2 separate regions of the Homo sapiens genome follow, and region 1 is linked to region 2. Evidence: fine-mapped expression QTL. A gene starts in region 2. The other region holds a variant in brackets. All regions are shown on one strand. Distances are from middle to middle.

Evidence for each region. PIP is the estimated chance that this variant, and not a neighbour inherited with it, causes the effect.
Region 1: its variant is fine-mapped to the expression of CDV3 in pituitary (GTEx, PIP 0.98).

What each region holds. Positions count from the first base shown.
Region 1 is chr3:133,525,327-133,530,701 of GRCh38, reverse strand. No RefSeq gene overlaps it. Among named protein-coding and RNA genes, the nearest start is that of BFSP2-AS1, 37 kb to the right of the region's middle. The variant G/A (reference allele first, on the strand shown) is at 3,110.
Region 2 is chr3:133,570,413-133,575,787 of GRCh38, reverse strand. It overlaps CDV3 (CDV3 homolog), which reads right to left and starts at 2,102. Exons shown (of 5, transcript NM_017548.5): 1 at 1,504-2,102; 2 at 673-749. The coding sequence starts at 1,743. RefSeq lists silencers at 1,134-1,523, 1,554-1,663, 1,684-2,223 and enhancers at 2,604-2,773, 2,430-2,931, 2,874-3,113.

The DNA.
Region 1 (5,375 bases), 45 kb after region 2:
AAATGGACTGCAAAGATTAGCTTAGACCAGGTAGGAACTATCCCCTCTGACTGGAGCTGGGTCAGATTTCTTTTTGTATAGGAGAAAAGCAATGGATATTAGGTAGACGACTAGATGCTTCTTGTGTGTGTGTGTGTGTGTGTGTGTGTGTGTGTGTGTGTGTGTGTGTGTGTTGGGGTCCGGTTTGGGGAGTATGAGAGAATAACTGTTATCCACTGTGTCCTTGAACCTCCTGCCTTGAACTGCTTCTCATCCTGTCCAATCTCTCATTTTCCTTTCCTTTCCTGTAGTTAGATGATGTTATTGGTCCCTATTTATCATCCCTTCCTGTATCCACATCCTTTGCAATGTAACTTGGCAGTGTCTTCTCTCTGTGAATTCCACCTGGCTCTAAACTTTGGGTTTGGTTATGTCAGTAATGCAGAAGTGAACACACTTGAGTTCTGCACTTAGGTCTCAAGAGACCTCAGGTGTTTCTGCTTATCTTTGTACACCTCTGCCATCACCATGAGAAGAATATGGCTCCCCATAGCCCACTAGGGAACATGGGGAACAGAGCTGCCCCGGACAAACCCAGCCTAGAGAAGATCCTCCAACCAACCCACAGATGCATGAGTAAGCTCAGCGTAGATTGGCCATACCTCAGCTGACTCACACAAGTGAGCTTAACAATCAATAATAATTGTTAAGATGCAGAGTTCTGGGGTGGTTTGTTACATAGCAGTAGCTGACTGATACACTCCCCACACATCCTCTTCTCTCTCCCTGTTGCTCTCATTTTCTGTGGCTGTTTTTTATCCTAGACTTTGACAATTTCAGAAATTATTATAAAGAAGTTAAACAACAGTAATTCTGAAACAAAGAAGGGAGAAAAAAGTCACCTATAATTCCAGTCCTGTAAACAGCAACTGTTTTCATCTTTGTGTTTCCTCTCGGTCTTTGACTCTACATATATATAGACAGACTCTGATTTACAATGGCTTGGCTTACAATTTTTCAACTTTACTATGGTGTAAAAGCAATACACATTCAGTACTTAGTCAATAAATTCCATAAGATATTCAACCCTTTTTTTTTTTTTTTTGAGATGGAGTCTTGCTCTGTCACCCAGGCTGGAGTGCAGTGGCACGATCTTGGCTCACCACAACCTCTGCATCCCAGGTTCAAGTGATTCTCCTGCCTCAGCCTCCTGAGTAGCTGGGATTACAGGCATGTGCCACTGCACCCAGCTAATTTTTTGTATTTTTAGTAGAGACAGGGTTTCACCGTGTTGGCCAAGCTGGTCTTGAACTTCCAACCCAGGTAATCCGCCCAGCTTGGCCTCCCAAAGTGCTGGGATTACAGGCGTCAGCCACAGTGTGCAGCCTTTTTTTTTTTTTTTTGAGACAAAGTCTTAGTCTGTCACCCAGGCTGGAGTGCAGTGGTGTGATCTTGGCTCACTGCAACCTCCACTTCCTGGGTTCAAGCGATTCTCCTGCCTCAGCCTCCCGAGTAGCTGGGATTACAGGTGTGGATCACCACACCTGGCTAATTTTTGTATATTTAGTGGAGATGGGGTTTTGCCATGTTGGCCAGGCTAGTCTCGAACTCCTGACCTCAAGTGATCAGCTTGCCTTGGCCTCCCACAGTGCTGGGATTACAGGTGTGAGACACTGTGCCCGGCCAATATTCAACACTTTTAAAAACAATTTTTATTTTGATTTTGAGACAGGTGTCACTCTGTCACCCAGGCTGGAGTGCAACAGCACCATCATGGCCCACTGCAGCCTCGACCTCCTCGGCTTAAGTGATCCTCCTGCTTCAGCCTCCTGAGTAGCTGGGATTACAGGTGCACACCACCACGCCTGGGTAATTTTAATTTTTAAAAAATTTTTTGTAGAGACAGGTTCTCCCTGTGTTGCTCAGGCTGGTCTCGAACTTCTGGGCTCAAGTGATCCTCCTGCCCTGGCCTCCCAAAGTCTGGGATTACAGGCCGAAGCCACTGTGTCCAGCTGTGACCGATTCAATTGAGGGAATGCAGTGAAAGTGATACTGTGTGACTGGTCAGAAAATGCCATGAAGCTGCTGCCTGATTCTTTCTCCTGGGAGAGTCAGCCACAAAGTTGAACTACCTCGAGATCACCATGCTAGAGAGGCCACAGATAGATGCTCTCCAGGATAGCCCAGTTGAGTTCCTGGCCAACAGCTAACACCAACTGGCAGCCATCTAGGATTTTTCAGCCCAGTCGAGCCTTTGGATGTTCCAACCCTAGCCACTAAGTCCTCGCAGCCATAGAGTCTTCCCAGCTGAAGCCCTACCCATTGAGGAGCAGAGATAAGCCACCCCACTGTGCCTTGTCTAGATTCTTGACACACAGAATCCATGGATATCATTAAATGGTTATTTTAAGCTGCTAAATTTTTGGGGTAATTTGTTATAGGCAACAGTAACTGGAACAAACTAGTAACATTTTTATGACTCCTGTTAAATTTTACAAATTGCTTTTTGTTGTCACCAACCATATCTGCATGCACGAGTTTCAGTAACACATTTTGCTGGCTTTGAGCCTTTTCACTTTAAAAAATGTCCATCCAATGGGGTATCCTCATATATTTTCATGGAATTTTGGAATTTACTCTCTAGCTGAAGGACATAAACACAGGTGATTGTCTCTTTACGTCTTTGGACATCTGTAAAATTCATTCTTCTTGGGGGGAGTTTTTTCTCCTGAAGGAATTTTGTTTATCTTGGATTTGAAACAGAGCTCTGATACTTATTTGCTTAGTAACTTTGGGCATCTGAGTTTCAGTTTCCTCATCTGTAAAATGGGATAATAATCTTCTGGTTTTTTTCTTCTCCTTATTTTTTTTCTCTTTCTTCTTATTTCTGTCTTTTCCTCTTTCTTTCTTAATTTCTTTCTTGCTTGTCTTATTTTTCCATTTTCTCATAAAACCCAGACTCTTATATTAATTTTCCCTGGAAGATCCTTAAAACTCTGCCATGGATCCTCCCTAAAGTGGCTTGAGAGGCACTGACGTTTTTCCAGTAACAGAGACCAGTAGAGAAGGTGGCTGCTGATTAATTCCATGTCAGCCAGGGCGTCCTGTGCTCTGCATCTAGAATAGGGCA[G/A]TTTCCAAGGTGACCAGGACTAGTGTGTGAGGATAAGGTGAGGCCCTGGAGTTATGAGCTGCCAAACTCATAAACCACACAGGCTTCCCCTGAGCCACGCGTTGCACACTACTCGCCAAGCAATTTAACAACTGACTTGAGGCAAAATGTTCCAACAACATTTAATGATCAGTGCAGCTATAAATAGGATCATAGAACAATTTGGATAGATATTAATATATGGGTTCAGCACTGGAGTGACTAAACCTTGAGTTGTTTTGACCTCAGAGAGCCATCAAAAATGTGCTGCAAGGAACAATTCTGTGGTTGTCTGTGGCAGATGTTTTGTTCCTGTTTGACATGTCCTTGTGTGTGTAATTTACTAACATGATAATAACCTGCTGTTTGGCAGTTTGCAATTTACAAGGTGCCTTTACACACATGTTCTCATTTAATCCTTGGAAGATACGCACTATTACTGAGAATGGGGGGAAACAAATAACTTGCTTCAGGACATCCAGATCAGGACACAGAGAGGGGAGTGAGGTGGGATGATGGTGGTGGTGGTGATGGTGATAGTAGACTCCAGATTTGAGACAAGGACTGTGTGGCTCTCAAATTGGTTTTCCCTCCTTATTTCACCAAAATCCTGATGTTCTTATTTAAAAGACTTGGAATAATAATTCCTCTCCTATCTTCACAGAGGCCAGCCCATTTGGTTCCAGCACCCAGATCTTTCTTTTATTACTTCACATTAAAAGTGGGCTTGCCAGATTTAGTAAAGAAAAATTCAGGGCACTCAGTTAAATTTAAATTTTATACAAATAATAAATAATATTTTAATGTAAGTATGTCCCATGGTGCATTTTATCTGGCAAGCCAGTTAAAAGCATTGTTGGCTGGGCACGGTGGCTCACGCCTGTAATCTCAGCACTTTGGGAGGCCGAGGTGGGCGGATCACTGAGGTTGGGAGTTCAAGACCAGCCTGCCCAACATGGAGAAAACCTGTCTCTACTAAAAATACAAAATTAGAGGGGGGTGGTGGCGCATGCCTGTAATCCCGGCTACTTAGGAGGCGGAGGCAGGAGAATTGTTTGAACTTGGGAGGCAGAGGTTGCAGTGAGCCGAGATCGCACAATTGCACTCCAGCCTGGGCAACAAGAGTGAAACTCTGCCTCAAAAAAAAAAAGAAAAAAAGGCATTGTTATTAAACATTTTTCCCCTAAAAAGTAATGTGGGATTCTTACAGAAAATTATGAGCCTAGTGCGGTGGCTCACTCCTGTAATCCCAACACTTTGGGAGGCCAAGGTGGACAGATCACTTGAGGTCAGGAGTTCGAGACCAGTCTGGCCAACATGGCGAAACCCCATCTCTACTAAAAATAAAAAAATTAGCCGGGCTTGGTGGCAGTCACCTGTAATACCTGCTACTCAGAAGGCTGAGGCAGGAAAATCACTTGAACCTGGGAGGTGGAGGTTGCAGTGAGCGAGCCGAGATTGCGCCACTGCACTCCAGCCTGGGCGACAGAGCTAGACTCTGTCTCAAAAAATAAATAAATAAATAAATAAAATTATGAAAAGCCAGATAAACAAAAGGAAGAAAATAAAAATTACTCTTAATTTAACTAGCTGGCAACAACTGCTGTTAATATTTTGGATAATTACTATGACCTTTTTTCTCGTGCATATATTTATGTGTAAAAATTTTTTAAAAATAGAAAGTGAGATTTGCTGAATATATTTGCTTGATATTAAGTAAATATATATATAGTGATATACTGAAATATATTCAGTAAGTCTCACTTACTTACTGAAATATACTCAGTAATTGAGACTTATTGAATATGCAGACTTGCTTTTTTTCACTTCCCTATATGTCACAAACATCTTTCCATGTCCTCATGTGTTTTTGTAATATTCAAGTGACTGCAAGGTCATCAGTTGGACAGCATACTGTGTTTAGCTAATCCTCCATAGTCAAACCCTTAGATTGTTTCCAGTGGTTTATTATTACAGACCTTGCAATAAACAATCTTCACTAAGTCTCTCTGCACATCCCTGGAATACATTTCTGGCAGTAGAATTTCTAGGTCAAAGGGTAAGCAAACTTTTAAGGTTTTTGTTATATATTGTCAAATTGTTCTCTGGAAAATTTGTGCCAAATTATATTCTCACAAATAATATCTGAACATGCTTATTCCCTTGCACATTGTCAACACTTGGAGTTATTAAAAACAAAAAAGAGAAAAATCCCACTTTGATTTTGAATCTGCCCTGATTCCATAAC
Region 2 (5,375 bases):
AAATCTTCTAAACTACCCAATTTTTAAAAATTACTATTTTTTTGAACTTTAAAAAATAACATGTTTACAAATATAATTCCATTCCTATGAAGTTTTAGAAAAAATTATGGTGTTAGAATAGTGGTTATGTTGAAGGTGAATGCAGTGAGTATGTGTTAGGAGGGGAACCTTGTTCTGTATCAGTAATACTCAGTTTCTTGACCTGGTGCTTATTGCACAGGTTGGTTGCACTGTGTGAACACATAAAACCTCTATCTCTCTGTAAGTATGATATACTTCAATTACAAAAACATATATTCACTTGCTTATTGGAGAGGATGTGAAAAACATCCACATTACTTTTGAAACCAAAACTAAGTACAATCACCGATGTTAAAAGTAAAAATTTTGAAGCGACAAAATCCACTTTAGCTGTCTCAAATGAAAAGTCCTAACCAGAACTGGAAGTAGGCAAGCTCTCACAGGATTTTAGAGTCAGCAGCTAATTTCATGAGCACACGGAAGGGCTGCCTCCATGGAGTGAGAAAGAGTAGACAGAACCCATTTGAGTCCTAATAAGCATATCTAGAGCACAAGGCTACTATGATGCTGCTTTGGGGCCAAAGGAAAACCTAACTTGTATCCAATATCTATCCCAAAGGTTATCTAAACACATTTGTAACCAGACTATACCTTATTTGCATTGCCTGAACCCTGAGGCCGCTGTAATCAACCTCTTTTTGCTCCAATTCTTTCCATTCATCTTCGTCCTGTAAAACAAACGCCATTTGATCAATTAAAGCTATTTGTAGACATATAACTAAGCAAATAACACACTACGAAAAGTGGATCAAGTGGCTGGAACCTAAACTAAGTATGTACTTGTCTTCTGGTCAAAGCCCTTGCTTCGTTCTGGGGCAAACTAGGCTAAATGGAGGACAAACATGCTCGTAGGCTAACACTATACTTCCGCTGGGTTCCTGCATGGGAGCTGTTACTTTAAGCAACTAAGAAAAGCCGAAGGAAGAAGTCAATAGGAATTTCACAACTACATTTCTACTTCAACCTTGCCACCGAGAGTTTTCTTTTTCTTTCACGGGCTTAGAGACTAAGTCATCACAAAAGAGCTGCTACAAATGCGGCTGCTGAAAGCGAAAATTCAGCTCAAACTACTGGGCTGAGGTCAGCACACGGAATTACTCAGCCTAGACGTCACCCGATAAACGCTGCTCTGTGCTGGGCACTGCGGCCCCAGACCTAGTGCCCCCGGAGGGTGGCGCCGCCCGGGCCTTGGCTAACGCCGAGCGACGCGGGGTGGGAAGGGCGGCTCCACCGCGGATATCGGAAGGGGTCCCGGCCCTGGCGAGCCCAGCCCGAGGTGGAGAGCCTGCGTCACGTGGCGGCCCGCGCCCGTCCGCCCGGCCTCCGCGGCCCCTCCCGGACGCTTCCCCGGCAGGCGGGGGCGGGCACATGGGGCGCCGGCGCGCGGCCCGGGCCCCGAGTGCCGGCCTCCCGGCCCCTCACCTTCGTCACAGCCTTGGTGGCGGCCCCTGGGCCCGCAGCCCCCGCGCTGGCGGTCCCGCCGTCACCCGGCCGGGTCCCCGCGCCCGCCCCGCCGCCCGCCGCACCCGCGGCTCCACTGCTTCCGCCGGCGCTGCCCGCTGCGCCCGCGGCACTCGCCGCCCGGTTGCTCCGCTCCTTCTTCTTCTTCTTGTCCCTCTTGGCAAAGAAGTTGTCCAGGCTCCGCTCCTCCGTCTCAGCCATGGCCTCGGCCTCCTCGACCCGGATGGGTGGGGCCGGCGGCGGGCGCGGCCCGCGGGGCTCCGAGCTCGGGGTCGAGGCCGGCTCTGCGCTCACGCTGCCGGGCGCGGCGACGCCTCAGCCCCGCGGGGTCGCCGAGGCGTGCGCGGCGAGACGGGCGGCTCCCCCTGCGTGCTGGCGAGCGGTGGTACGGTCCGCCCGGGGGCTCGCGCGCCGCCGCTGTCGCCCGAGGCTGCCGGGGCTGCCGCTGCTGCTGCGACGGCGGAGCAGGATTCCGCTCTCCCCACAACCTGAGGGGAAAAGGCACGCGCGAGCCAGAGGTTCTGGCGAGAGTGCTCGGCTAGCAGCGGCGCGTGCCGGAGGAAGAGGCGCGCGCGCAGGCCTGGAGAGGAGGGGAAGGGAGTGGGGAGGGGAGGGAGAGGGAGGAGGGAGGGCGGGCCGCTAGAAGAGAGAGGAAGCGCCTGCGCCTGCGTATTTTGCTCTGCCTGCCGCTGTGGGATCGCCAAGGGGCGGGCGGCGGGAGGAGATGGAGGCGGAGCTGGAAAGAGAGCCAATCAGGTGCCAGGACGAAGCTCTTAGGTGACAATCCCTGACCCAGACGGGGCGGAGTCCAAGCATGGGGGCGGGGAGAGGAGGGCATATGCAAAATAAGTGACGTGCCGGGCGACTCCGGTTTCCCGATTGGCCGAGGGTTTAGTCTTGAGGGCGGGCATGTTGAGGGCTGGTTGATGACTTGGCTAAAGAGGTCCAGCAGGAGGGGCAGTGGGTTCCTTTTGGACGCATGCGCAGGATGCACGTGTGTTTCCTGGCCCAGAACAAACCGTGGCCCCATAGTAGTCGTTTGAACTGTCGCGAAACGGACAGGCACTGCGTTAAGCCAACTGTGTTAAAGATTGTTCCTCTCCTCTGATCGCTTCTGTACTTCCACCCCCTCTGGAGTGGCAACCATTACTTTTCTTCTTTACCGGTTGATTGTGAAAGTGAGAGGAGCAGTGAGCCTGAAGTTTAGGTCCCATTTACTAAAAGATCTTTCATAGGCTGGTTGGTAGGTAGAAAGGGATTTTGTCTGAACTCCACCCTCTGGATTATGTTTACCAAGGTCAAGTTCAATAAATCCTATCGTCAAGTCCCTAATCTGTAAAGTGGGTATACTATTTCTTACAAGATAGGGGGATGGAGGGAAGAGAGTCAACATTATTAGCTGCTCAGCACATTGCTTAACGCCCTGACTTGAGTCTAGATGATGATACAGTTTATCCTTAGCTTCTATCCCTGATAAAAGGAGGGGACTGTCTTATCATAGGGGTGGAGACCAAAATGCCCAGGCGAAAGCCAGGTTTAAATGGGTTTAAAGCCCATTTAAATACCCTTGGGGCCTTGAAAATGAAATGAATTCTATATGCAAAAGGTGGTCTAAAGTAAGCTCTTAAACTTTCTACTTCCTCCTTCTAAAAGCAGAAGAGGGAGCTGTCACAACCATTGAGGAAATGACTCAGACAAATGTTGGTAGCCATATGGGGTAGATAGAATCCAGCCAGTAAATGGAGAGACTTCTTCGTCTTTTCCTTTACAGTTACCCCATTAAAGTTTCTCTTTTCCTACCCCCTACTTACACTGCTATTAAAGAATTAACTTCTGGCTGGGCGCGGTGGCTCACGCCTGTAATCCCAGCACTTCAGGAGGCCGAGGCAGGCGCATCACCTGAGGTCAGGAGTTCGAGACCAGCCTCACCAAAATAATGAAACCCCGTCTCTACTAAAAACACGAAAATTAGCCGGGCGTAGTGGCTAACGCCTGTAATCCCAGCTACAGGTTGAGGCTGGAGAATTGCTTGAACCCGGGGGTGCGGAGGTTGCAGTAAGCCGAGATCGCCTCATTGCAATCCAGCCTGGGCAACAACAGTGAAACTCCGTCTCAAAAAAAAAAAAAAAGTCTAACTTCTGAATGTCAAAAGAAATCAAGGACCTAGCCTTGGCCAGCAAGTAGCTTGAGCTTATACATATACTATTCCCCAAACATGAACAGCTCCCAAGGTGACTTCCTTCTATGACAACATATATCTTCCTGTGATGCAGGCCAGGTTCAGTACTGCCCATCACCATCACCCTCCCTTACCATCGCTAATCAAATTTATTTTCTTTCTTTTTTTTCTTTCCTTCTTTTTTCTCCCTTCCTCTTTTCTTTCCTTCTTTTCTTCCTCCCCCCTCTTTCTTCCTTCCTCCCTCCCTCTCTTTCATTTATTTATTTATTTATTTACTTACTTATTTTTTGAGGCAAAGTCTTGCTCTTGTCACCAGGCTGGAGTGCAATGGCATGTCAGCTCGCTGCAACCTCTGCCTCCCAGGATCAAGCGATTCTCCTGCCTTAGCCTCCTGAGTAGCTGGGATTACAGGCACCCGCCACCACACCCAGCTAATTTTTGTATTTTTAGTAGAGACGGGGTTTCACCATGTTGGCCAGGCTGGTCTCAAACTCCTGACCCTCGTGATCCACCCACCTCAGCCTCCCAAAGTGCTGGAATTACAGGTGTGAGCCACCATGCCCGGCCCTCTCCCTCTCTTTCTTTCCTCATCTATGAAGCACTTATTTTGCTATATTTCGGGCAAAGTGCTTTATTCAAAAGTGAGTAATTTGTGATTCCTGCATTCAATTCCCTTATAATCTAGAAGAGAAGATCTAGATATAAATAAGTTTCAGTTATTTATATCTTTCTTAAGTCCTTATCAATTCATCATTGTCTTGAAAGAATTAATGACTTGAGAAAATACACAGAAGGAACAGTAGTTGAGGGCTGACGCTGCAGAATTTCCCACTACATTTTTCAGTGTGATTGATGGCATGATCCCAGAACTTGATCATGTGTAAGAAATTCAGGTCAGGCCAGTAGAGAGACCAGTGTCTTTGTGGTTGTGTCATTGTTTGTAGTAATTCTCTCCTCTGTGAAGCTGGTCCCTTCCTCTTTGAATCACCTGCCCTAAAATTGACAGCATCTGTTCCCATCAGTTGCTCCTTTTAAACCTCCCCTACCACCCTTCTCCAGATTGGTTGCACAGTGCCCTGAATCATGCTATCATTATCATCGTTACCAGACACCCCCTCATCTTTGAAGCATCCTTCTGCCCTCTCTCTCTTTTTTTCTTTTTAAGAGGCGGGGCTCAAGCAATCCTCTGGCTTCAGCCTCCAGAGTAGCTGGGACTACAGGCAGGTGCCATCATGTACAGCTGAATTTTTTTTTTTTTTTTTTTACATTTTTAGAGAAAGGGATCTTGCTATGTTGCCCAGGCTGGTCTGGAACTCCTGGGCTCAATTGATCCTGCTGCCTTGGCCTCCTGAGTAGCTGGGATCACAAGTAGGAGCCGCTGTGCCCGGCTCCTCCAGCTCTCTCTTGACAGAGGTGTCTTCCCCTCTGCTGTCCAATGTGTTTGGACCGTCTGCATACTTAAAGCAAACAGACTTTCACTTGTACTTGCCAGATGGAAAACTTGTATAGTAATGCAGACTATTCCCAGGTATTTCTGCACATCTTCCAAGGTTCCTAATGCTGTCTGAACATGGCAGTTTCCCTCTGGGTCCTCTGAAGTGGTGCAATCCGAAGGACATCATATATCTCCCTCAACAAGGCCTGCTGAGTTCCA